Regions from separate parts of the Homo sapiens genome. Here region 2 is linked to region 1. The links come from fine-mapping of genetic effects on gene expression. A gene starts in region 1. The other region holds a variant in brackets. All regions are shown on one strand. Distances are between the middles of the regions. Region 1 holds the start of HLMR1 (hepatic lncRNA metabolic regulator 1). Region 2 overlaps HLMR1 (hepatic lncRNA metabolic regulator 1).

What was found.
Region 2: its variant is fine-mapped to the expression of HLMR1 in liver (GTEx, PIP 0.98).

The regions. Positions count from the first base shown.
Region 1 is chr3:142,924,995-142,927,913 of GRCh38, reverse strand. HLMR1 (hepatic lncRNA metabolic regulator 1) reads right to left here and starts at 1,239. Exons shown (of 5, transcript NR_038455.1): 1 at 1,018-1,239.
Region 2 is chr3:142,940,678-142,943,596 of GRCh38, reverse strand. HLMR1 (hepatic lncRNA metabolic regulator 1) reads right to left here. Exons shown (of 5, transcript NR_038455.1): 5 at 1,061-2,198. Among named protein-coding and RNA genes, the nearest start is that of HLMR1, 15 kb to the right of the region's middle. The variant C/T (reference allele first, on the strand shown) is at 1,733.

The DNA.
Region 1 (2,919 bases):
TATGATCTACCTCCCATCTTAAGGAACAGAAACATAGGAAAAGGTGAATGGTAATGCGGATTTAAATAACAGTTAATGACAACTATAATGGACAAAAGGCAATATCCAAGAGGCAAGTGAATAGTATAAGTCAGAACTCTTTGCGTGCAAGCACCAGAAACTAAATTTAAAATCTCTTAAGTTATCTCAAAAGCTATTTATTTGCTGGCAATAGTAGAAGGCATTGTGGGCTGAATTTTGTCCCCCCACAATTCATGTGTTGAAGTCCTAACTCCCAGAACCTCCAAATATAACCATATTTGGCATAGGGCCTTTAAAGAGGTAATCAGGGTAAATTGAGGTCATTCGGATGGATCCCAATCTAATCTAACTGGTGTCCCTGTAAGAAAGTGAGATTAGGACAAAGACACACACAGAGGGAAGGCCAAGTGAAGGCACAGAGAGGAGGCCTATATGCAAGCAAGAAGAGAGTTTCCAGAGTGAAACCAACCTCCATGACACCTGGATCTCAGATTTCTAGTCTCCAAAGTCACAAGGAATTAAATTCCCATTTTTAGCCACCCAGTCTGTAATACTTTGTTAATGCAGCCTGAGCAGAATAAAATAGAAGAATACTGGGTGTTTCATAGAATTAAAGAGTTACAGGAAACAGTCGGAGCCAGGAATCTCAAGGACTAGAACAAGGACCTCAACACCTGCAGAATACACACACTATCCTCCCCACACTTCCAGCTTCAGAATTTAAAAATGCCAAGGATGGCCTCAACTGATCCAGTTGAGGTCGCATTCCCAACCCTAAGCCAATCATTTAATTCTCCTAGTTCAGTGATGCATCTCTACCATCCTTCGCCGGTCTGTGTCCCCAGATCCTCCTGTGGTTGAGTTTCCCAAGAGAGTAAACCTGGTTTCTGCCAGGACAAGAGAGAGGCTGCTGAAAGATGAGGAAGGAATCCAGAGGTCTGACTGCTTTCTCCAAGGACTTTCCATAAACCTCCTGTTTTCAGCTCCGCCTCTTACCTTTTCTTTCAGAAGAATCTGGTGCCTCCAATTCTGGGGACTTTACGGGTGCTGTGCCATGAACTAGCTTCCTTCTTAAGCTCCCCATCTGCTGGTACTGCAGTTTCAGCCCCTGTCCATGTCCATCTCCAAAAATGAGATGACATGGACTTTTCACCTATTCTTTCTGTCTTGTGGACTTGGGCCTTTTTGGCTTCTTTGCTGTCATTTTAGTAGCATTTTGAAAGAGATGAAAGAAAAACACAGGTTTTTAAACTGCAATGTTTAACCAGAAGTCTATTTTGGGAATTTTCAAATAATCCTCTGTGAAGGTGCCACAGTGGCTTACTTCTGGCTTGGGAAGGTGGCAGTAGCACAGAGGACAGACAGGAGAGCAGACTAGGAAAAGGGTAGGCAGGCTCTGGCCTCTGCCCCCGCATCAAGCAGAAAATCTTGCTTTTTATGTTTTATACATTGTCCTTCTAAGATTTCATTTGAAGAAAGAGACTTTAACTAAAAATAGAAAATCTTAAAACCACTGTGCAATACCAGCCTGCCTCCTACATATTTTAAAGAGTTTAAATTATGGTGTACATACATGTATTCTGGTTTTTTTTCATTAGATTGTGTTACAAACATGTTTCCATATTTATGTGGCTTTTTCATCATCAGTTTCTTAACCTAGTGCCTGGCACATGATAGGCTTTTAGTAAATAGTGATTGATTGAATGAATGAATTATATTTAACAGCTGCTTCTAATTTATTTGTAATTACAGAGAATAAGCTCTTCCATTCATTCATTTATTCACCCAACACATATTTATTCAATACCTATTATATGTCAGGCATTGATGGATGGTGCTGAGAATACAGGAATGAGTAAGGCAAACCGTCCTTTCCACACAGAGCCAACAGTCTAACGGGGGAATCTGACAAGTGAATTGACAATCACAATATGTATAAAAGCTATGGGAAACAAAAAGCATCTACAGGAGCACATCATAGGGGTCCCTAATGCAGACCTGAAAGTTGGGGAAGTCTCCCTGGAGGAAAAGACTTAAAGTGAATCCTAAAAAACTAACAAAACAGTTTCTGGTTCAGCATGTAAGAAATTTGGAAGTTGCCACTCTGTCCTAATGAGTAAAAAGCTGAACAAACTGAAAAACCAAATTAGCCAGGCATGGTGGTGCACACCTGTGGTCCCAGCTACTCGGGAGGCTGAGGCATGAGAATTGCTTGAGCCTGGGAGGTGGAGGTTGTAGAGAGCCGAGATTGCACCATTGCACTCCAGCCTGGGTGACAGAGCGATATTCTTGTCTCAAAAAAAAAAAAAAAAAAGCAGTGAAAAATCAACAACTCTTCTTAGCTCTATAAGAGAAGTGATGGCACAGGACAAATTGCTTCCCCCAAAATTGGGAAGACCAACAGGCAAATACAGAGAATCACAACTTCAAGAGCAGAAACCTCCATGGGAACCAGTGCTGGCACAGAAAAGTCTGAACTTGTAACTGTGAATTGCTGGAGCCAGTTCTCAGACAAGTGTGAACAAGTCTGAGAGATAAAAATCCAGGGGAACTGAATCATAGAGAGGTCCCCACACTTTTGTGGGTTTTACCTCCAGGAGCACTACCAGGTCTCACAGTGAATATTAGGGAAAAAAATCCCCTCCTGCTTCCAGCAGTGGGAGGGGAAAAGGAGCCATTTTGAAATATGCTAGAGCATTATGTTCTTAACAAGGTCTGTCCTCAGGAGAAACTATGTAACCAGAGCCTGACCTGCTGGGGTTAAATATCCAACTCAAGTCCATTCCAGCCATCCTGTCCCACCTAAGGTGAGGTGGGGGAAGGGACCTAGAGGCACATGAAGTTCACAATCCAGAGTAATGGGCTCACTGAAAGACTGAGGAGAACACTTCCTCTCCC
Region 2 (2,919 bases), 16 kb before region 1:
GCCTGGGTTCACAGTACAATTACCTAGGGAGCTTTACAAGACGGCTGATTGCCAGGCTCTATCCTCAGAGATTCTAATTCAGGCAACCTGTTGGGGCTTTGGAACCTGTAGTTAGGTGACTCCAAAGATCAGCCAGTTCAGGGAACCCTTGCAGCAAGATTGTCCAAGTGTTACTAGAAGTAGATTCACCAGGATGCCAAAGAGGCTCAATTTTCAGGGCCTTTCATTTGCATGGGTCTCTTCCAAAGCACCGTATCTAATTTTATATTTGTAATTTTGTATTCCTTTTCTTTTCTTTTCTTTTCTTTTTTTTTTTGAGACAGAGTCTCGCTCTGTCACCCAGACTGGAGTGCAGTGGCACTATCTCGGCTCACTGCAAGCTCAGCCTCCCAGATTCATGCCATTCTCCTGCCTCAGCCTCCTGAGGAGCTGGGACTACAGGTGCCCGCCACCATGCCCAGCTAATTTTTTTGTATTTTTAGTAGAGATGGGGTTTCACCCTGTTTTGCCAGGATGGTCTCGATCTCCTGACCTTGTGATCCACCCACCTTGGCCTCCCAAAGTGCTGGGATTACAGGCGTGAGCCACCATGCCTGGTCTTGCATTCCTTTTCTTAAAGAGGGCCCCCTAATTGTAAAGAGCTCAGTCCCCACAAAACCTGAATCTGCTCCTGGCCATAAAGTATACTGTAGTCAGAAAACTATAACTCCCAGGCAAATCTGGCTCTCTGCCGGCTTTTGTACAGCCCACACACTAAGAATAGTTTTTACATTTTTAAATGGTTAAAAAAAAAGAAGAGTAATACTTTATGACACATGAAATTACTTGACATTCAAATTTCAGCATTCATAAATAAAGTTGTATTGGCTCACAGCCATGCTCACTCATTTATGTATTGTCTATAGCTGCTTTAGTGCTACAATGGCAGAACTGAGTAGTTGCAACAGAGATTGTATGGTCTGAAATGCTTAAAATATTTACTATCTAGGTCTTAACAGAAAAAGTCTGTAGACCCCTGACCCATACCATGAAATAATAACATCTTAGACATGACAGAAAATTGATTTGAAGGGATTGCTTTATTTAACGTGAAAAGCGTGATAGAGGAACTGTTTAAGATAAACAACTTATAAATACTCCCAATTGTAGAAGTGAAAGATTGATTCTATGAAAATCTACAAGTGATTAAATTTAGACATGAATATCAAAGACTTTATAGAGTCATAGCATCTTATCAAAGATCATTTAGCAGAAGTTATGCTTAGTCTGTAGGTTAGAAGCAATGATTAGTGAGACAGATTGGTTTGTGGGATGACTCAGGATAGGATGATTATCAGTAAAAACCTTCCCAGGTAAAAATTACAAGAAAAAGAATAGAGGATAGTTGCAAAAGATTTATGGAATTAGTTTAACCACTAAGCATAAAATAGTACTGCTCTGGGTTGTGAAAAAGTATAGTAAAATGTTGCTAAAGTTATATTTCAAAGTGTAGCTCCCAGAGATGAAACCAGTTAAAGCAATTCTACAAACAAAGCTAAAAACATTTTAACAATAATGATGGGGTGTATTGGGCAAGAACTGTGACAGATCATCGAATTCCGACAGCAAAGCACATTAAAAATATTGATTTAGCTGTCTCTCTTGATAGAAGTATGACAGAAAGTTAGGCAGAGCTGTGAAGGTCACTCTGAAGGTCTGGGACCTCAGAGAGGCAGCAAGGAGCAAAGTCCAT[C/T]GAAAGACAGTCAGTGTAGCACTGGGGTTGGTGGGAATGCTAACCGGTCATGTTCTGTAGCAGATTTCTCAATCAGGCAAACAGTAGGAGGAACGTTATATCCAAAAGACAAATCGATTAGGAAGTTTGGCCAGTGAACATATTATTAGGATTGGGAGGTCAATGATCAAGGCAGAAGCTCTTAGTCAGTTCACTTTGCAGCTCTCATCATAGGATTGTACAAAAGAGAAGAAAAGATCTTCCTTAACTGACTCAGGGCCAGGTACTTTGAAGATCCAAGTAGTCTGCTACTCCAGCTTCTGCTGGAATCTTGGCTGTTTGGAGGCAATTTGTTCTGTGCCTTTTGGAGAAATCCCCTGTGTTCCAAAGAACACCTGGGAATAATATCTCAACTGTAGTTCAACTTTTCCATTTTCACAAGAGAAGGGACTTGAGAGCTGGACGGTAAGAGAGTCGTTGAGTCCATCTGAAGGATGGCAGACAGAAGGGAAAGAGGAAGGACAGCATCATTTTCAAGCATCTACTATGAACTAGGCACTCTGCATATGTTACTTCATTATTTTCACATCTCCTCAATGTAATTATTATTGATTTCACTTAACATCTGGGGAAACAGGGAGCATAAGTTTCACGCTCACACTCATCCAGTCTCTGACTGAACTAGTGAACTACTGAACTACTGAATTCATGAATGTGAATGCTGAAATGTGAACGCACGTCTGTCTGGCTGCCTGGCCCCAAGTCCTTACTCCTTTCAACTTACCTGGTTGCTCCAGGCAGGCTCTCCAAGAAGACAGAGCAGCAGGAAGAAAAATATGGCATATAAATATGTTTTTCCACTTTCAAGGACCACCAAGACATTTCTTAAATTTATTGGAGTTATAAAAACAAAACTAAATACCCTTCATTAATGAATGATACTATCTCTAAGGTGGAAGGTCACATTACCTATCGCAGTCTTCCTTAAAGTGTCAAATTCGGAATGTAGGAAATGTCCTGTATTAGGTCCCTTTGAGACTTTACACAATTTACCCCAAACTCGCTGTAAAAAATGGTCTCTTTATACGTAGAGTTAAAGTTTCGCCAACTACAGGTTGCCCAGGAGAGGCAAGCAGCCCTCCTGGCCCCTAGTTTCAGCTATGACTAGTTTCTTTTTCACCACAGTCCAATTAGAAATGAGGTCATAG